Homo sapiens: one gene and its partners. The protein of the gene in region 2 purifies or fractionates together with the protein of the main gene of each other region. This does not show direct contact. Each region holds a gene or a part of one and is shown on either strand. Other genes may lie near its edges. The genes, in order: PRPSAP2, MTRF1L, MECR and TTC4.

What was found.
Region 1: the proteins of MTRF1L (region 2) and PRPSAP2 fractionate together in Homo sapiens (co-fractionation; one large-scale study listed by BioGRID). This does not show direct contact.
Region 3: the proteins of MTRF1L (region 2) and MECR fractionate together in Homo sapiens (co-fractionation; one large-scale study listed by BioGRID). This does not show direct contact.
Region 4: the proteins of MTRF1L (region 2) and TTC4 purify together in Homo sapiens (affinity purification with mass spectrometry; one large-scale study listed by BioGRID and IntAct). This does not show direct contact.

Annotation. Positions count from the first base shown.
Region 1 is NC_000017.11:18,863,680-18,869,490, reverse strand, and holds part of PRPSAP2 (phosphoribosyl pyrophosphate synthase-associated protein 2), read right to left. Parts: intron 4,023-5,811; 5' UTR 3,927-4,022; intron 3,690-3,926; coding exon of another isoform or gene 3,658-3,689; coding exon 3,539-3,657; intron 2,235-3,538; exon of another isoform or gene 2,210-2,234; coding exon 2,157-2,209; intron 1-2,156. UniProt on the Homo sapiens protein: Seems to play a negative regulatory role in 5-phosphoribose 1-diphosphate synthesis.
Region 2 is NC_000006.12:152,994,910-153,000,720, forward strand, and holds part of MTRF1L (peptide chain release factor 1-like, mitochondrial), read right to left. Parts: intron 3,727-5,811; exon of another isoform or gene 3,721-3,726; coding exon 3,641-3,720; coding exon of another isoform or gene 3,617-3,640; exon of another isoform or gene 3,384-3,616; intron 3,245-3,383; exon of another isoform or gene 3,096-3,244; intron 411-3,095; coding exon 227-410; intron 1-226. UniProt on the Homo sapiens protein: Mitochondrial peptide chain release factor that directs the termination of translation in response to the peptide chain termination codons UAA and UAG.
Region 3 is NC_000001.11:29,202,233-29,208,043, forward strand, and holds part of MECR (enoyl-[acyl-carrier-protein] reductase, mitochondrial), read right to left. Parts: intron 4,674-5,811; coding exon 4,530-4,673; intron 1,002-4,529; coding exon 899-1,001; intron 1-898. UniProt on the Homo sapiens protein: Catalyzes the NADPH-dependent reduction of trans-2-enoyl thioesters in mitochondrial fatty acid synthesis (fatty acid synthesis type II).
Region 4 is NC_000001.11:54,729,361-54,732,860, reverse strand, and holds part of TTC4 (tetratricopeptide repeat protein 4), read right to left. Parts: intron 1,376-3,500; coding exon 1,161-1,375; intron 1-1,160.

The DNA of each region.
Region 1 (5,811 bases), on a different chromosome or scaffold from region 2:
TGGTGCCCACCTGTAGTACCAGCTACTGGGGAGGCTAAGGTGGGAGAAGCACATGAGCCCAGGAGGCAGAGGCTGCAGTGAGCCCTGATCATGCCACTACACCCCAGCCTGAGTGACACAGAAAGACCCTGTCTCAAAAAAAAAAAAAAGAAAAGAAAAGAAAAGAAAATGAGCTTTAGAGTCAGGGAGATCTGGATTCAAACTGGACCTCGTACCTAACATCAATCCCTGAACTCCTGAACTCAGTTTTTCAGTATCTGGTAACAGTAAGAAATTCACAAATATTACTTCCTTCCTTCCCAATAAACACCAAGTATTTTCTCTCCCTTTATTCAGAAACTTGGAGAGTGGACCAGTCTCCTGGAGTCTTATGCCACTGCTTCTCCCTTTCACCTTCCCTCCTAGACTCCAGACAAAGAACATCATTCAATCCCCTCTAGAGGAAGAATCTTCTCCAAACTCTCCTTGCAGAGTTTAATTATACTTTTTCCCTACTGACGCCACATAGGGATCTTGGGAGACAGAAAAGAGGCAGGAACGGAGATAAACATGGGAACAGCAAAACTTGTGCCTTTTTATCAAAGCCTCCTGTAGGCTTTATAATATGTAAATATTTGATAAAATCCTGTAGAGGGGCCAGGCCTGGTGGCTCACACCTGTAATCCTAGCACTTTGGGGGGCTGAAATAGGAGAACTGCTTTTGCCCAGAGTTTGAGATAAGCCTGGGCAACATAATGAGACCCTTGTTCTACCAAAAAAAAAAAAAATGTTTTTTTAAATCTTCTAGTGGAAAAGGAACAGGAATAAGTATATATTGAGCACCTACTGTGTGCCAAAAACTGGTAGGCACACAAGTTATCCCACTTAATCCTCAAAACAGCCCTAATTTACAGTTTATTTATAGTTTAGAAAGGTTAAATAACTTGTCAAGGATAAGGTGTGTAACTCTCAAGCCCATGCAAGCTGTCCATCGCTCCTGCTAAAATAATTTCTTTTTTTTTTTTTTTCCCCTGAGACAAAGTCTCGCTCTTGTTCCCCCCCAGGCTGGAGTGCAATGGCACAATCTTGGCTCACTGCAACCTCCACCGCCCGGGTTCAAGCGATTCTCCTGCCTCAGCCTTCCCAGGAGCTGGGATTATAGGCGCCTGCCACCAAGCCCAGCAAATTTTTGTATTTTTAGTAGAGACAGGGTTTCATCATGTTGGCCAGGCTGGTCTACGAACTCCTGACCTCAGGTGATCCGCCCACCTCGGCCTCCCAAAGTGCTGGGATTACAGGCGTGAGCCACCACGCCTGGCCTAAAATAATTTCAAATATCCACCATTGCTAAAGAAATTACAAAGATCACTTTCTATTTATTTATTTATTTATTTTTGAGACAGGGTCTCACTCTGTGGTATGATCACACTTCACTGCAGCCTCCACCTCCTGGGCTCAAGCGATCCTTCCACCTCAGCCTCCCTAGTAGCTGGGACTACAAGTGCAAACCACCACTCCTGGCTAATTTTTGTATTTTTAGTAGAGACAGGGTTTTGCCGTGTTGCCCAGGCTGGTCTCAACTCCTGAGCTCAAGGAATCTGCCTGCCTCAGCCTCCCAAAGTGCTGGCATTAGATGCATGAGCCAGCACACCTGGACCTACAAAGGTTAAATAACACTTCTTTTTACAACTTGGGAGAATTATGTAATGACATGTATCAATTAGCAAAAAGTATTTCTTAACAATATTTTATGAAGTCTAACCCAAGGCAGCTTAGGTGCAAATAAAGACTAACTAAAACTGCGGTCACACAGGATTTAGTCATCCTGTCTAAGGTGACAGGATTTACTCATCCTTCCTAAGGTGACATAAATTTAAGCAACAGTTGAGCTCATGTTCATTCAGTTGACCAGCTGGTTCAAATATGTCTGCAGCTTTTACTGAATGAAGTCTCAGAACTGCAGTTCAAGCCCCAGAAATGACTTGCACCAGGGTTAGATATCTAGCTGGTATTAGTGAGAGCTAAAAAACCACTCTGTTCTACCTTGCCTGCCTGACTTCTTGCTAATGGAAATGTACAACTGAATCAAATCGTTTCAATAGTAAAGGATGAAGGACGGAGCCAATATGCCACATTTCACAAAAAGGTCAATGTTCCACATGCCCAAGATAGCTCACCTCTGTTAGGTTCCTGGTAAACCTGCACTTTGCCCATCTCCACCCCTAGCCGCCTAGAGAAGAGAAAGGGGGAAAAAGCTGAAAAAGTAATAGAAGAAACCCAGTATCTTTACTATTTAAGGAGACTCGTAAATCGATAAGAGTAAAATAAAATAAAGTTATTCTTCTTATAAAATTTAAAGTCAACATTAAATTGTTACATCAATCCATTACCTAGCCCCTCACCCCAACCCCATGTCTCCCCAGGAAGGACTATGCAGTCCCGCTCTGCCTGCCTCACTAGCCATCTTCCTTGGACACTCTGTACTCCAGCCCACGTTCCTGAGACACACCAAGAACTCCTCCTGCATGCTGCAGAGGCTTGGAATCTGCTGTCCCCTCTGCTTGGGGGGGTTCTGCCTCCAGACCTTCACTTGGTGGCTCATTCAGGTTTCTCAACTCACACACCATCCCTTCAGTTTAAAAGCACTTCAGCACACATGCTAAAGCAGAACAACCTGCCCCATCATTACTTTCACACAGTTTTCTTCATAGCATTGACATCATCTGAAATTACCTTGTTTGTTTTGTTGACTTGATTTCTGTTTGGCTCCCATACTAAAATGTAAATTTCATAAAAAGGATGGATCTTGACTCACTGATAATCCCCAACATCTAGATCAAGGTCTAGTACACAGTAGTAGGGGTACAATATTTGTTTAATAAATATCTAAAATTATACTAAACTATAAGCTATAAGTTATTTCATATAATATACATGTTAATGTTCTTTTTTTGAGACAGAGTCTCGTTCTGTTGCCCAGGCTGGAGTGCAGTGGTGCAATCTCAGCTCACTGCAACCCTCCTGCGTTCAAGCGATTCTCCTGCCTCAGCCTCCCAAGTAGCTGGGACTACAGGTGCCCGCCACCACGCCCAACTAATTTTTTGTATTTTTAGTAGACGCGGGGTTTCACCTTGTTAACTAGGATGGTCTCAATCTCCTGACCTCGTGATACACCCGCCTTGGCCTCCCAAAGTGCTGGGATTACAGGCGTGAGCCACCGCGCCTGGCCCCAGTGTGCTTTATACTCAAATAATTATATATATATATAGCATCTAACACAATCCCTGGCACTTATAAGGCACTCAATAAATGTCTGCTGAAAGAATATGTAGGGAGATGGGATAGTTTACAAAAAGAATAGCCCTTAATATATACAGATGAGACATACTACATGAACATCTTGCATGATGAAAAAAAAGATACATGATGAAAAAAAGATATAATTATTTTATAATTATAAAATATCTGCTTTCAAATTTAACAATAACTGCTAATCTGATTATCAAATTTAAAGCATCACATAATGAATATAGATTTTAATGGTACAATTATAACTCACTCTGCAATTTTCTTTGATAGCTCCATACATGATGAATTCGAGTTTGCTGAAAACAACACCAGACCACCTTTGGTTATGTTCATCTTGGTTTCTAATTCAGGTGGCGTCACACAAAACATCAAAACCTTCTTGGTTTTCCAATTTTCAGAGCCTAGAAGGATATAATACTTATTAAAAACTGCCATATGATATGAAATATACCTGAATGAATTTTTTTTAAAGGAAATGACTTCAGCTGAAGGAAATTAGTTTCCATCCTAATAGTATTTTTTAAATATTAGATATATATGGACAAACAGAAAGTTCAGTTGGATTTCAGGGTCCTAAATTTATGGAAATACATTATCACATGATGTTCACAACCACTAAGAAGAAATGATAAACTTACAAGAAAGGCGGAGCTGAAGAGCTCAATGTTTTACTGATTGCTGCTTAAAGTCAATTATGGACAACCTCCTTTTATTCTCTGACAACAAAATTCCTCCTGGATTAACACACAGAAAAATGGCAGAGCCATTAGCGAGAACAAGGACTGATTAATCCTTAGACAAAGAATAAATGACCCATCTACACCCAGCTTTTCCTGTAATCCTTGTTTACCATAAAACCTTTCCCGGCCTTTCAGCTGCCCTGTGTCATGTCTAAAACTGACCTCTCATCTTCATTTTCCTCAAGTGGAACACGGGCTGACTAGATAATCACCTTGAAGGACACTTAAGCGACCACCCAAATGACAGTTTTGGTCACACCCAAATTTTGGCAGTGGGCCAAAAATAAAAAGGTCCCTGGCTTATAAATCATCAGTGCTGGTCAGATGTGGTGGCTCACGCCTGTAATCCTAGCACTTTGGGAAGCCAAGGCAGGCAGATCACGAGATCAAGAGATCAAGACCACCCTGGCCAACATGGTGAAACCCTGTCTCTACTAAAAATACAAAAAATAGCTGGGCATGGTGGCGCGTGCCTGTAGTCCCACCTACTCGGGAGGCTGAGGTAGGAGAATGACGTGAACCTGGGAGGCAGAGGTTGCAGTGAGCTGAGATCGTGCCACTGCACTTCCAGCCTGGCGACACAGCAAGACTCCATCTCAAAAAAAAAAAGTCGTCATCATTGCTGAGTGTCCTCATCACATAATGGAGATGCTAGATGGGAGGAACAGCAACAATCCAGCAGGCTGTGGGCAGGGGGGCCCTTTCTCAGCAAGCCCACTGCATTTCCACAGTTGTATGTTCACCTGGGACCTCTGGGAAGGCTGGTGTAGATCATCAATGAGCTGAAACTAAGCTAATCTTTTTCATTATTCTCAAATTTTAATTATACAAGTAAAACACAAACACATCCTCCCTATAAAAACCTGAAACATGGCTGGGCGCGGTGGCTCAGACCTGTAATCCCAGCACTTTGGGAGGCCAAGGCAGGCGGATCACAAGGTCAGGAGTTCAAGACCAGCCTGGCCAAAAGGGTGAAATCTGTCTCTACTAAAAATACAAAAATGAGCTGGGCGTGGTGGTGGCTGCCTATAGTCCCAGCTACTCTAGAGGCTGAGGCTTGAGAATCGCTTGAACTCAGGAGGCAGAGGTTGCAGTGAGCCAAGATTGCACCACTGTACTCCAGCCTGGGCAACAGAGCGAGACTCCGTCTCAGAAAAAAAAAAAAACCTGAAACATGATAGTTAAGGATAAAGTCACCAGCCTCGATCCCAGGTCCTCCCCAGAAGTGAGGGTTCTTATCAGTTTGGTAGGGACAACATAAGACTTTTTCTATGCATTTATACATGTGACCTCCATAAAAATTATATACGGCCAGGCACAGTGGCTCACGCCTGTAATCCTAGCACTTTGGGAGGCTGAGGTGGGCAGATCACTTGAGGCCAGGAGTTCGAGACCAGCCTGACCAACATGGTGAAACCCCATCTCTACTAAAAATACAAAAAAATAAAAATAAAAATAAGCCAGGCATGGTGGTACATGCCTGTAATCCCAGCTACTCATGAGGCTGAGGCAGGAGAATCGCTTAAACCCAGGAGGCAGAAGTTGCAGTGAGCTGAGATCCACTGCACTCCAACCTGGGCAATGAGAACAAAACTCCATCTAAAAAATTAAAAAAAAAAAAAAAAAAAAAAGGCCACGCAGTGGCTTACGCCTGTAATCCCAGCACTTTGGGAGGCCGAGGTGGGTGGATCACCTGAGGTCAGGGGTTCGAGACCAGCCTGGACAACATGGCGAAACGCTGTCTCCACTAAAAATACAAAAGATTAGCCGGGCGTGGTGGCAG
Region 2 (5,811 bases):
ACTTTTAAAGACTGTTAGCAATTTGATGGTTAGTATTATTGAAAGACTCTCCATTAGATTTTATAGGTCATCTCAAAATTACTGTATGTGCATTCAAATTTATTAGGTAAATGATGAGCATAAAACTACATAAGCATCCTCACAGATAAGTTCTAAAGCCTAGTCATGGTCTTTCCAACTCTTTTCCTAAACACTTTACCTGAAACAAAATGAATAGTTTACTGACCTAGTTCACTTGGAAAATATTCCAGGGTTTCAAAATGCCATCTTTTAAATGCAGCATATTGCTGATACATATCAAATATCTCTGATGTAAACAACATTGCCTCCTGACCTCCAACTCCTGCAGTTACTTCCAGGATCAAATCATTTTCATCTGTTTCTTCTGAGGGAACCAAAAGTAAGATAATCTGTAAATATAAAAATATCACCCCTCCTATAATTAAGATTTAAAATTTATCAAAAAATAAAAAGCTAAATGATTCAGGAATTTTAAATATTTAAGTTTCGCCAAGCAAATAATGTAATATTGCTGAGTACTGTTCAACCACCTTGCCAATTAGAACTGTATAATGTGTAACTTCCATAAAGTATTAATGTTACAACCATATTATAAATGCTGTTAAGATTCAGCTAAAATTTCAGGCTTGTTTTATTGTCTGTTGGAGTTCTTGTATGCTTTGTATCAGTTCTCTCTTCAGTTAATAAGAACTAAGTACTTGCTCTGATTCGGAGATTATACTGTTGTGGAAAGCAAAAGAAGATTCTAGATCCATCCTCTTGAAAATTAAGGCCTAGTATGGCAGAAAACCAAAAGCACTCAAAACTACATTTGTATTATTTTAAGATTTCTTATTATGGAAGAGAAACTTGTAATTTTGAAACTAAAAAGGCCCTTAGAGATTATCTGGTCCAATTCTTTAATTATACATGTAAAGGAAACAGAGCTTAACAGAGATTAAATGACTTGTTTAAGGGCAAAGTGTTAGTTACTGGCCAAGCAGGCACAAGAACACAAACCTTTGTGCCTAGATCAGTCTTCCCTCCATTACAATAGTGTGTTTCTAATCAAGGGGATCTAGAACAAACACTTCTTAGATTAGGTCAATTAATAAGAAAAGCTACCAACATTTTATTGGTTCTTTAATATATGGCAGGCATTCTAAGCACTGTACATACTGTAATTCTTAAAACAATCTTGGGTAAGTATTATTAACAGTTCTACCTTAAGATGTGAAACTAATTTTACAGGGGTTGAATAATCTAGTGGCTCAACATTACCCAACTCAAAAGTTAAGTGGAAGAGCTAGAATTGAACCTGAATATACCTGAGTACACTGCTATCACACTTGACATTGGTCAGAAGCTATGCTAGTTACTACTTTTCCATCTCTCTAGCCTATGCCAATACAACATTATCATTCAAATTTTGAACAAATAATGGATTTTACTTCTGTTTGTTGATTACTAGACACTGAACAGAAACATTTAATACACATATCCTTCTTATTCACACAAAATTTAATTTAGAAAATGGGTAAAATGCGAGCTATACTACACTTTTCACCTTATAGTGGAATTCTCCCCCTCTAACATAGGTTATAGGAACATTAATTTTTAGTAATTTTCACATTTGCCTAAAGGGGAAGCAGATTCTCAAAAATAAGTACCCCCTTTCCTGGCTCCTTCCTTACCTAACATATTCTTTCACTTATCCCCAACGGTAATTGCTGTCAACCTTTAGTCTCTGCTTTACAGAATTAGCAAAGAGTGGCTCTAATTTCATATAATTATTCTTCATTAACTCTATATGTTCTGTAATTCACAAAGATGTACAACCAAAGCAATGTAATCCAATTCTTAAAATCGTGAGGGCTTACTCTAGGTCTGGTATTCCAAATAGTGTCAGAGATGCAAAATAAGTATTCCTGGCCCTGAGGAGCTCACAGTCTACTATCACTCTAACAGGGGACTTCAAGAAGTTGTATTTCAAAGTTATTTTGTAACAAAATAAACTCGTGCTAACTTGTTATAACAAGTCACAGGCTCTAGTTTGAGGTACTAAAAAGGGTATCAGTTTGCAAAGAGCCCCATCAGAGCAATATGAACTCTGTTAAATTGAAGCAAGAACAAACATTAAATTGCTGGTGAAGCTTGGGTGGAAGAATGGTGAAATCATTGATGCTTTATGAAAAGTTTATGGGGATGATGCCCTGAAGAAATCAGCAGTTTACAAATGGATAACTCATTTTAAGTAGAGACAAGATGATGTTGAAGAAGAAGTCCACAGTGGCAGACCATCTGCATCAATTTGTGAGGAAAAAAATTATCTTATTCATGCCCTAATTGAAGAAGACTGATGATTAACAGAAGAAACAATAGTCAAACCACAGACATCTCAACTGGTTCAGCTTATAAAATTCTGACAAAAAAATTAAAGGTGAGCAAACTTTCCACTGGATGGGTGCCAGAACCTTTGCATGCAGATCAGCTGGAGGCAAGAGCAGAGCTTTCAATAGAAATTTTAAACAAATTGGATCAAGATCCTAAAGCATTTCTTTGAATTATAACCAGAAGTGAAACATGGCTTTACCAGTATGATCCTGGAGACAAAGTACAATCAAAACAATGGCCACCAAGAGGTGGAAGGGGTCGAGTCAAAGCAAAAGCAGACTGGCTAGGGGCAAAAGTCATGGCAATAGTCTTTTTGGGGATTCTCAAGGCACCTTGCTTATTGACATTCTAGGGGCCAAAGAACAGTATCTGCTTACTATGAGGGTTTTGAGAAAGCCAGAGTTTTAGCAAAATACCAGGGACAGCTTCACCAGAGTCCTCTCCTACACCAGTGCTCCTGCTCATTCCTCTCATCAAACAGGCAATTTTGAGAGCTTCAATGGGAAATCCATAGGCACTCATGTTACAGTCCTTATTTGGCTCCTCCTTTTTTTTGTTTCCTGATCTTAAAAACTTTGTAAAGGGTACCCATTGTTCTTTAGTTAATAATATAAAAAAGACTACATTGACATGGTTAAATTCCCAGGACCCTCAGTTCTTTAGGGATGCATTAAATGCTGGTATATCACCTTTTTGCTTACCAAAGTGTCTTGAACTTGATAGCTGGTGGCACTTATGTCAATAAATTAAAGTTTATATATATATTTTTTTATCTTTTAATTCCAGTTTTCCACAAACTTTTGAAGTCCTTTCATATAACCTCTTCTGCCCCATGTCTACCTCCAGTCTTCTTAAAAAAAAAAAAAAAAAAAAAGGGAAGATATGCCACTATTTCGCTGCCTTTCCAGAAAATACTATCACTGTGACATTTATCTTTCTGTGAGAGCGCTACAGTACTTTTAGTATGATGAAAACAGGACCATGTGAAGTTTGTTCTTTAAAAACCAGTTTATTGATAGTCATAATCATTTCAAAATGTATGCATATATCAAAACATCACATCATATACCTTAAATATATGCAATTTTGGGGGTCAATTTATACCTCAATAAATCTAGAAAATAAATTTAAAAAACCCAGTTTATTCTAAACAGTAACAAGCTAGTCACTTGTTTTTATAAACCTTTAATAAACTTTAATGCCTAAGAATAGCACAAATGCTTTATTCTTTGCAGAAATACCATACCTGATGCTTCAGCTGAGTTATTTCTTTTTGACACAAAGTGATTTCATTCTCTGCAAGTTTCCTTAAATCTTCATTCTCATCTAGGAAAAAAAGGGCAGAAGTTAAGGTTTTCCTTAATTAGTGTTAAATTGCTAGCAGACTTCTAGGAAATAGTTTTATGGTTATTATAGCTGAAGGGAAAAATAAAATGTATATCTTGTCCTTTCAATAAATACCATTCAATAAATGCCTTTCAATAAATGTCCTTTCAATCAATTTCACCATTTTATACATTAGTTTTCATAAGCATGTAAGTATAAAATTTTTTTTCTGATAAAGTACAAGTACAAATTTCTATAAAAATATAAAGAAGCTAAACTCTTCCATAATTTCATCTCCATGAAATATTCACCTTAATAAATATGCTTTTAGACTTCCAACTTAGACTGTATAATAACGAATGCATTTAGCTAATAAGACAGAAGGGATACAGAAGGTTACACCAGTAAAACTAAAATTCAATTAAAAAGTAGAAATTTATTCTCTTATAAGCAAATGTTTCATTAGTATTTTAGTATCCACCCAAAAACATTTATTAGATTCTGCCTAATGTATACAGAATGTTTATACGAAGTACTCCTCTGTCTCTCTCTCTGGCTTTACCTTTATTGTTGTTTCATCTTTGAATTTTCATTTTTACCTTATAAAACATACTTTCTCATTCCTCTACCCTATAGATGATATGCAGCATATATAAAGGAGGAGGAAAGGGAAAATTTCTGGCTATTAACAAATTGTTCTCTCTATTGAAAGTTCAAACCCTTACAAAGCATCAGTTTGTATGCTTATCTATTAAGAAACAACCATGCTGGGAAGTGGGATAATACATATATAAGACCTGCCCTCAAGAGAGCATTATAGATAATTTTAGTTTCCTTATATTTTTCTAGAAGAGAAAAACAAAAAATAACCTAAACCCTTATGTGACATGGTTTGGCTGTGTCCCCACCCAAATCTCATTTTGATTTGTAGCTCCCACAATTCCCACCTGTTGTGGGAGGGACCCAGTGAGAGGTAACTGAATCATGGGGGCAGATATTTCCTGTGCTGTTCTCATGATAGTGAATAAGTCTTACAAGATCTGATGGTTTTATAAAGAAGAGTTCCCCTGCACAAGTTATCTCTCTTGTCTGCTGCCATGTAAGACGTGCCTTTTGCCTTCCACCATGATTGGGAGGCCTCCCCAGCCACGTGGAACTGTTAGTCTATTAAACCTCTTTTTCTTAAAAATTACCCTGTCTTGGGTATGTCTTTATCAGCAGTGTGAAAACAGACTAATACACTATGTGATTAAATATTAAAACAGTTGTGCCTTGAAGGAATCTGTTGGTTTTGGAATGGGCAGAAAAAGGAAAAAAAGATTAACTCAAGGAGAGAGAATAACAACAGCAAAACTGAGATAAGCAAGTACAGGAAGCACTGCTGAAAATTATTTTGGCAAGCATATGGTATGGAAGAAATTTGGTAGAATGGAAAATGTGTTAGGAAAAGCAAAAATGAATTCTAGCCCTAGCTTAATCGCTAAGGTACTGTTAGGGCAATAGGCTCAACTTCTTTCAGTTATGACAAGAATGAAATGAAAGTTCTGAGCTGGATAATCTCTAAGGTGCCTTTCAGTTCTGCAAAGCTAAGGAGATTGGAACTAGAGTCTAGAAGTAATTTAATTTTAATACTATATTTTATTTAACCCAATATGCTCCAAATATTATTTCAACATGTAATTAACATAAACATATTACTTTTTATACCAGGTGTTTGAAATCTATATGTATTTTACACTTACACACCTCAATTCAGACTAGCCACAAATTGCTCAACAGCTGTGTGGCTACTGGCTACTATATTGGACAGTGCAGCTCTAAAGGGTTTAGAATTAGGAGTTACTCACAGGCAATGGTAATATACTACTTCTTTAATTTCTCTTGAATATTATAAATCAACATATGTTTACTGGACACCTACCATGTGCCTGCCTTCCCCTTTGCCTATAAAGATGTTTATGGTTTCCCATTCTAAATGGGTCCTTTTCTTTTCAACCCTTTAAGTAGCTGCTTATTGTCACCCCTCTTTTCCCACCCAGATTTCTGGAGATAAAATGCCATTTTTATAACTTTTCTCCTGTTAACTCTAAT
Region 3 (5,811 bases), on a different chromosome or scaffold from region 2:
CCTCACTGGCAACAGAGTGAGACTGGGTGGTTTTCACAGGCCCTGACAGCTCAATAGTGTTAGAAGCCATCTGTGCCCAGGGAGAAGTCACTTAACTTCCTGATTTCTTCTACTGAAAGGACAAACTCCACTTCCCCCCTCTTTTCAAGTGGTTCTTCAGAGTGTTGGACATACACAGTCTAGACCAGGAGTGGCTCTGGGTCTCTTTGGTTAAGGCAAATGGAATTATTTTTGCGAGTACAACTGAGGAACTGAAGCTGGTGTCGATTATACTAAGAGTGGGCTTCCATGACAGCCACAGCCACATTCATGGACAGTGAGGCCTAGAGAAACTGGACGATATGATGGAAAGAGAGTAAGTGAGGAAACCGAGTCTATTACTGACTTGCTGTGTCTTCCAGGGCAAGCTGCTCCCTGAAACTTCAGTTTCCTCATCTGTAAAAGACAGATGACAAACCTGCCCCTGTCTCCTTCACGTCTGTATTTAGCGCACTTCCAAGTACCACACAAAAGCAAGGGTAAAGGGGCCTTGGGTTAGACAGTTCACAGAAAGAATAATACAGCTCAAATCATTCCCAAATATCAACTGGGGTTTTGAAAACATGAGGTTATCACAAGCCAAGAGTCTCAGAAAGTCTTAGCTATTCAGTAAGGGCAGTCTCCACCTCCTTCCTGCCCTCTCTTTACATGTCAGATTCACTCATCCTATCGCCAAAAGCCAGCTGGACTTCATTTCTTAGGACTGACTCATCTGTTTCAGCCGCCAACTGTTAGCGATGCCTAAAGCCAGTTTATGCTTATGCAAGGGCGCCCTCTGGTGGACAACTGGGCACCGCAGGGATGGGAGGTGGGAAAGACCCAAGACATGGTCTGGGATGAAGCCTCCTTCCCCACGCACCTGTCTCGGACCACATTGATGGTTCTTAGGCCCAGGGCTGCGGCGATCTGGATGACTGCTTGCCCCACTCCGCTGTTGGATGCATTCTGGATGACAGAATCCCCTGTGGAGCCAGGAAGAGAACCAAATCAAGCCCTGTATAGATCTGCAATAGGTCAAAGGCTCCCAGCCGGGGATCCTTCTGTAGGCAAGGGAGTCCTCAGGCTCAACAGGGACCCAGGACCTGGCTGCTGAGTCTTCTCAGACCTTCCACTGTTTCTCACTGTTCTCCTAATGCCTCCTAAACTTCCACAACACTCACGATGCCTCCCAGGACTTGGCAACTCAGCATCTACACTGGATATAATTTAGACCCTGCCCTGCTATGTAAAATATTTTATAGCCTTCGTCATCCTCCCAACTTTTATGTCCTCAAGTCTTTACTTAGGTTATTTCCTTGGTTTGCAATGTTTCCCTCCTTCTCTCTTCCTTCCTATTGAAATCCTGTAGATCCTTTGAAGCGCAGCTCAAGTGCAGCCTTCATGAAGCCTTCCTGGATTGTTCCCTCTATGTGCTCCCACAGTGCTCTGTGGGCATCTGTATTAATGCACATACCACGGTCTGCCCCATCTTACACTTCATTGTATATAGGTCCATTTCTATCAACAGCTTGCAGCTTCTTGAGAGGGAAGGGTCATGCCCTATTCCTCTCTGCAGTGTTTAATAAAGGTGCACTGCCTTGAAATGGGATTACAGCTGCGCTGGAGAAACTGGCAGCCCCTGAAACAGGGTCCTACAGTTCTGTGGCAAAGCCCAGGTTTAGCTTTGGACCTGGCCATTGGGGAAGGCGGTGTGACATGCTGGGAAAAATGTGGGCTCTGGAATGAGACAGATCTGGGCATGAGTCTCAGTTTCACCAATGATTGTAACTAAACAGACAGGGCAAGTCATGACCTCTGTGAACTTCAGTTTCCTTCCCTTAAAATATAATCCCAGCTACTAGGGAGGCTGAGGCAGGAGAATCGCTTGAACCCGGGAGGTGGAGGTTGCAGTGAGCTGAGATCGCGCCACTGTACTCCAGCCTGGGTGACAGAGCGAGACTCCCTCTATTAAAAAAAAAAAGTGCCCCCGATTAGAGTCAAATGCATCGTGTCCGGGAAAGTGCTTTGTTGAATTTGAAATGCTATCTGGTTTTTGAGAGGCAGCAGGGATCTGTCACACAACGGGCTGAAACTAGAGATAGAGGACTTCCTGGAAGAAGAATGCCCACTCGTCTTCACCAGGGGTCAACGTACAGGTTGTCACCCACCAGTGGATTATGAATCAATCTAGTTGGTTGCAAGCACCTTTTTTTTTTAAAGTTAAAATTGAGAAGAGAATAAAAAATAACAGAGTATGTCACACATAGTAAGGGTATTTCACGAAACTTTGGTTTCCATTATATATATATTCCTATTTGTATAAACTGATCACAATATAAAATGTAATTCTTACCATGTGTCAAGATCCTAAGTTTATTCAACAGTGATCTAGTTCAGGCCATATCAGCCTTGAGGCAGGAAAGTGGAGAGGTGTGCAGTGGGTACTTAGGGTGGGCAGCGTCGAAATGCCTAGATCTGTTACTACAGCTGCAGCCTAAATGGGAGGTGGCTTTAGGGCATGGGATGCAAGCAAACAAAGTGTCTGCTGCACTAGGACTCCAGCAAAGGTCCCTGGTCACAGCCACTGGCTTTCTCCACCAAAGGCTCCCAGGAACCATCTGCCATAGTTGCAAGAAACCTATATTTCTCTTGTGGGAACTGGCATCGGCTTTCAGCCAGGCCTTGGACAGTGGCTGGGCACCATGTTTCATCACACTCCAACAACTGTGGGCCTCAGTTTCTTCGCTGGTATGAGAGGTGGCTTGGGTGAGTTCTACAGCCACTGCGGCTCACGGATGTGCATGGATGTGCATGGTGTGCAGAGGCAGCCCAGGAGGTTAATGCCCTTAGGGCGACCCTTAAACAATGGGGTGTGAGAATTAGTGGAAAACTGGCCCAGCCTCTCATCATTCAAGGGTTAGTTTTTGTTTTGTTTTGTTTTGTTTTGTTTTTGAGATGGTGTCTTGCTCTGTTGCCCAGGCTGGAGTGCGGTGGTGCAATCTTGGCTCACTGCAACTTCCGCCTCCCGGGTTCAAGCGATTCTCCTGCCTCAGCCTCCTGAGTAGCTGGGGTCACAGGCGCTGCCACCACGCCGGGCTAATTTTTGTATTTTTAGTAGAGACGGGTTTTCACCATGTTGGCCAGGCTGGTCTCAAACCCCTGACCTCAAGTGATCTGCCAGCTTCAGCCTCCCAAAGTGCTGGGATTACAGGCATGAGACACCATGCCTGGCCTTAAGGGTTAATTCTGCAGTGGGTTCTGAGAGTCTTCAGAGGGCCCCAGCAAGACTGAGCAGGCCGGCTGGGGGTGGGTGGCTCGCGCCTGTAATCCCAGCACTTTGGGAGGCTGAGGTGGGCGGATCACAAGGTCAGGAGTTAGAGACCAGCCTGGCCAATATGGTGAAACCCCATTTCTACTAAAAATACAAAAATTAGCCAGGCATGGTGGCAGGCACCTGTAGTCTCAGCTACCTGGGAGGCTGAGGCAGGAGAATCCCTTGAACCCGAGAGGTGGAGGTTGCAGTGAGCCCACGCCACTGCACTCAAGCCGGGGCGACAGAGCACGACTGTCTCAAAAAAACAGCCGGAGCAGTAGTTGCCCGCAGCAGTAACCGGGCTTCATGGGCTTTGCCTCCATCTCTGTCTCACTCTCCCCACTCCCCTTCATTTCTTCTTCCCAAACAAACTCTCTGCACCCAGTGCTGGTCTTAGGCTCTGCTTTCAGAGAAACCCAAATAAAAACACTTGGCTCTGTCATTTACTCCCTGGCTGATCTCATGCAAATAGTTTACCTTTCTGGACCTCAGTTTTCCCATTTATGAAAGGGAAGAAGAATATAAGCAGCGGACAGTCTCTGCACTGTATGCCCAGCACTGTGTGAAGTATTATGCTGTAGTGTTTCACCCTCCACGTTCTTTATTCTCCATTTTACAGAAGAAAAATCTGATGATTTGAGAGGCAAATTCACAGTCAGGGAAAGGTGAAGCCTGGGGTCAGACCCAGGTTATCTGCCCAGAGCTTGAGCTCTTAACCAATGATGGTACCAACCTTACTGCAATGCTGTGAAGATTTCATGCACTCAACGGGGATAATGCCTGTCAACGCACTTCTGTGAACTGGAAAGTGCTATGTAAACGCTGAGTGGAATTATTAACACTAAGTTCAGCATTTTATTGAAAACATAGGGACTGTGTCTATCTTGTCTGCCTTTGTATCCCAGAGCTTAGCCCCAGCTCAACACATTTTTGCTGAATGACAGAATTCAATCCCAAGCTCTAGAGAATGTGACCCTGCAGCAGTTTTCGAGAGTGTACTCCTCATGAGGTTTCAGCATGTTTCCTAGGAACCAAGCTAACATCTTTCTAAGTGAAAGCAACAACATTCACCCAGGTGAGAGGTCCATCACCCCCTCAAAACCTCCACCTTGCAAGTTCTCCTGGCCTTGGGGTCAGGATGTGAGTGGCACCCTAGTTGCGAGACCCTGGCCTGCTCCCCCAACCTGTGGGTTCCTACCTGGCTGCAGTTGCTCGAAGTCCATCAACATCCTGTAGGCTGTGCAGGGATTGACACCCAGGGTGGCAGCGCTCTGAAGAGGGATGTCACTCGGAACTTGGATCAGTGCTTCCTCGCTGAACACAGCCTCGGTCCGCCAGGTTCCTGAGTCAGAAGATGAAGCCAGGATCATAAGGAAGGAGCCCTGTGCACATTCAACCCCAGCTCACCCTCCTTGGCCAAGAAGCATCCAGGATAGTGGGTAGCATCCACTGGAAGCATCCAGGATAGCATCCAGGATGTTTAGAAAAAGAAGAAAATCTGGACGTTCCTCTGAATGTCTGAGTCCTCATGATAATTATGCACAATAGATTGTTATTCTTTTTAATTTTTTTTTTGGAGACAGAGTCTTGCTCTGTAGCCCAGGCTGGAGTGCAATGGCGCGATCTTGGCTCACTGCAACTTCCGCCTCCTGGGTTCGTGATTCTTATGCTGCAGCCCCCTGAGTAGCTGGGATTACAGGCATGCACTACCATACATGGCTAATTTATTTATTTTTAGTAGAGACAGGGTTTTGCCTTGTTGGTCAGGCTGGTCTTGAACTCCCGGTCTCAGGTGATTCGCCTGCATCGGCTTCCCAAAGTGCTGGGATTACACACATGAGCCACTGTGCCTGGCCCAAAATAGACAGTCATTCTTATCTTAAACATGTAGTAAAAATGGGGTGTGGTGGCTCATGCCTATAATCTCAGCACTTTGGGAGGCAAGGTGGGAGGACTGCTTGAGGCCAGGAGCTCAAGACCAGCCTGGGCAACATAGTGAGACCTTGTCTCTACAGAAAAAAAAAAAAAAAAAATTAGCTGGGCATAATGCCCTGCAGTCCCGGCTTCTCATGAGGCTGAAGTGGGAAGATTGCTTGAGCCCAGTAATTTAAGGACACAGTGAGCTATGATTGTGTGACTGCACTCCAGCCTCGGTGACACAGCAAGAACCTGTCTCAAAAAAACCCAAAAAACAAAAAACAAACCAAAACAAAATATGCCAAATACCATTGTAAGGGCGATTCAGAGAGGCTGCTTCTCTGAGTTACCATTAGATTTAGTTAATGTCACCGTGCAGGTAGTTAATGACCTCAAACTGCTGCAATCTAAGGGTAAGACAGTAGTAACATTACCACCAGGGCAGGAGAAGCTGAGAAAGCCCCCTTTTTCCTACACAGTCCTCATTCTTCTCATCCAGAGCAGGTTGACTCACATGTTTTTTTTTTTTAAGATGAAGTCTTGCTCTTGTCTCCCAGGCTGGA
Region 4 (3,500 bases), on a different chromosome or scaffold from region 2:
TCCTGTCTTGGCCTCCCAAAGTGTTGGGATTACAGGCATGAGCCACCATGCCCAGCTGACATAATTTTCTTTAAACAGCTTCAAGGTTAAAAACATTTCTGGTAGGGTGCAGTGGCTCATGCCTGTAAATCCCAGCACTTTGGGAGGCCGAGGTGGGAGGAACATTCGAGCCCAGGAGTTCAAGACAAGCCTGGGCAACATAGAGAGACTCTGTGTCTACCAAAGAATTAAAAAATTACCCAGATGTGGTGATGTTCACCTGTAGTCCCAGCTACTTGAGAGGCTGAGGCAGGAGGATCACCTGAGCCTGGGGGCTGGAGGCTGTGATGAACCATAATCATGCCACTGCACTCCAGCCTGGGCAACAGAGCGAGACTTGGTCTCCAAAAAAAAAAAAAAAATTACAAAAAAACTTTTCTTACACTCTTACACTTAGACTCATTCTACACATTAACCCTATGAAATCACAAGTTAAGTCTGATATATATACATATCTATCAAAGACATACATATATCTCTTTTTTATTTTTTTTTTTTTTTGAGACAGAGTCTTGCTTTGTCACCCAGGCTGGAGTGTAGTGGCATGATCTCGGCTCACTGCACCCTCCACCTCCCAGGTTCAAGTGATTCTCATGCCTCAGCCTCCTGAGTAGCTGATATTACAGATGCCCAGCTAATTTTTTGTATTTTTAGTAGAGACTGGGTTTCACCATGTTGGCCAGGCTGGTCTCGAACTCCTGGCCTCAAGTAATCTGCCTGACTCGGCCTCCCAAAGTGCTGGGATTACAGGCATAAGCCACAGCGCCCAGCCTCTATATTTTTTTTTCTAATTAATATTCACTTAAATTGCTATGCATGTATTACCTAAAATGACTTCCTATTTCACCAGTGATGTGTACCACTCTTTGGCAAACACAATACTGTGGTGTTGCATGTACTAGCCCAGTTAGTATGACGATGAGACTTTTGTCTGTCGTTGCAAACCTAGTTAGTCAAGGTTCAGTCAGCTACAGGATAGAGAGGTTATTATCAAACCAGATGGTGTGAAACCCTCTAAACCATTATCTTCCCTTCTCAACCAAAAATCCACTCGTCCCTCCTGCCACAAAAACAGAGACAGCATGCAAGCAAAAGCAGAGGGCTCCTGGGCAAGTCAGTACCTGGAGTCCTCATGAAAAGCAGAGATGAAGTCCGACTGGGCATACTCTGGGTACAGAAAGAGCACAGGCCAGCTCAGCCTGCCCTGGCCATCTAGACTCAGCCTGGCTCCATGGGGGTTCTCAGTGCTGAGTCCATCCAGGAAAAGCTCACCTAGACCTTCTGAGGCTGAATCTTCATCCTCACAGGCAGCTTCTGAGAGCCTGATATTCCTAGCCTGGGTTAAAGACAGAAACACACACACATAATGCACATCTTATTGTGTGGGAGGATGCAAACCCATTTTACTGAAATAAAGAAACCATAATGCCTGGCTAATTTTTTTATTTTTTATTTATTTTTATTTTTTGAAGAGACGGAGTTTCACTATATTGCCCAGGCTGCACGACTAACTTTATTTTTAATTTAATTTTCTTCATCTGTACCCTGAATGAACATGGACAACTAACTTTAATACATCAAAAAACAAACAAACAAAAAAAAACACCATAACAATGGGAGCTCCCTGAGGGACAGCTCTACACACAATCCATCTTCATTATCCCTGAGGCCTGGCACATAGTAGGTACCACTTAACTCACCTTCATTGGGCATCTATCTTGTGCTGGACCCTGTGTCACAGAGAACTAGACATGGCTACCTGCCCTCAAGCCTCTGCTCAATATCAAGTGGTGAGACAGCTATGGAAATAATGATGATATAAGGTAAGAAGTGGAGTTGTAGTACCATAGACGATGGAATAATTAATTCAGCCTTGGGGGCTGGAGGTGACTGAGATATGCTAGGCCTTGAACAATGACTTTGAAAAGCAGAGAAGTTGGAAGGGAGGGGCACTTAGAAGGGAGGAAGAGCCTTCCACTCCAACGAGCAGCAAGTGCAAAAGGACAGAAAAGATAAAAAAAAAAAAAAAGAAATGTCAAATATTTCAGTTTAGTTGGGACATGGAATACTAGAAAGAGTGTGCATTGACTTAATCTTGACTGTCTCCTAGACATGGGCATAAATTAAGGGTCTGAAATAGTAGGGTCACCTCTTATGTAAGTGTGCAGGGGTGCCTAAGGTTAGCACATGAGGGGAAATGACATGCAATCAAAATTAGATTTGATGATATCCCCTAAATTGGAGGTTAGCAAACTTTTTCTTAAAGCATTAGATATGAAATATTTTAAGAGTTCTGGACAATGGTCTCTGTCAAAATTAACTACTCAACTCTGCCACTGTAGTGTGAAAACAGCCATAAGTAGTACATAAACAAATAGGCAGGGCTGTGTTCCAACGGCTGCAGTTTGCTGACTCCTCCCTTTAACCATTAGTAAAATACAGCATGCATGGCTTCGTGTACTGTTGAGAGTAACTCTTATGTATGCTAAGTTTGAGATGAAGGGTTACACTAAAGAAGAGAACCAAAAAAAAAAAAAAAAAGGATTTATGCAAATGTCTGGGTGTCTGGGCATCTCATATTCTACAATTAAGAAAACGAACAAATCCCTCACTGTGAATGAGAATTAGATGGAAAATCTGGAGTATTCTAATCTGTTTAACGTGTTAATACATGTAAACAGATTGTTGTGGGGAGGGAATAGTGGAGTATGTTTTAGCAGTGTTAAGTTTCTTACAGTCAACAAGTAACATAAATGGTGCATAATTTAACTGAACAAATAATAAAACAAAAAACCTACCCCGGTTGGGCACCGTGGCTCACGCCTATAATCCCAGCACTATAGGAGGCCAAGGCAGGTGGATCGCCTGAGGTCAAGAGTTCAAGACCAGCCTGACCAATATGGTGAAACCCCGTCTCTACTAAAAATACAAAAATTAGCTGGGCATGGTGGTGTGCACCTGTAGTCCCAGCTACTCGGGAGGCTGAAGCAGAATTGCTTGAACCCAGGAAGTGGAGGCTGCAGTGAGCCGAGATTGCACCACTGCACTCCAGCCTGGGTGACAGAGAGACATTCCATCTCAAAAAAAAAAAAAACCTATCCCATAATCTCCCAGCAGATATTCTCTCCTTTGTTAAGACCAAACAATCTCAAACAGGTGACTCCCTAGGTATCAAGGTTAAAGCAAGATTTGGGTCAGACTATATATATTTCAAAATACAGAAAAGAGAAAGACAGGGTGGCATTTTGTTATTGTTGTTGTTGTTATAGGAACAACATCCTAAAATGTCAGACTTTCTCAGGATGCTGTACAACCCAGTGGTTAAGAGCAAGGACCCGGCTCTAACACATGTTAGCTGTGTAAGGTTTCTTCACCTCTCTGAAACTATTATCCAAAAAAACAGAAGCAAGACAACCTATTTCAGAAGGCCACTGTGAAGCTTAAATAACACTTAACCCAAA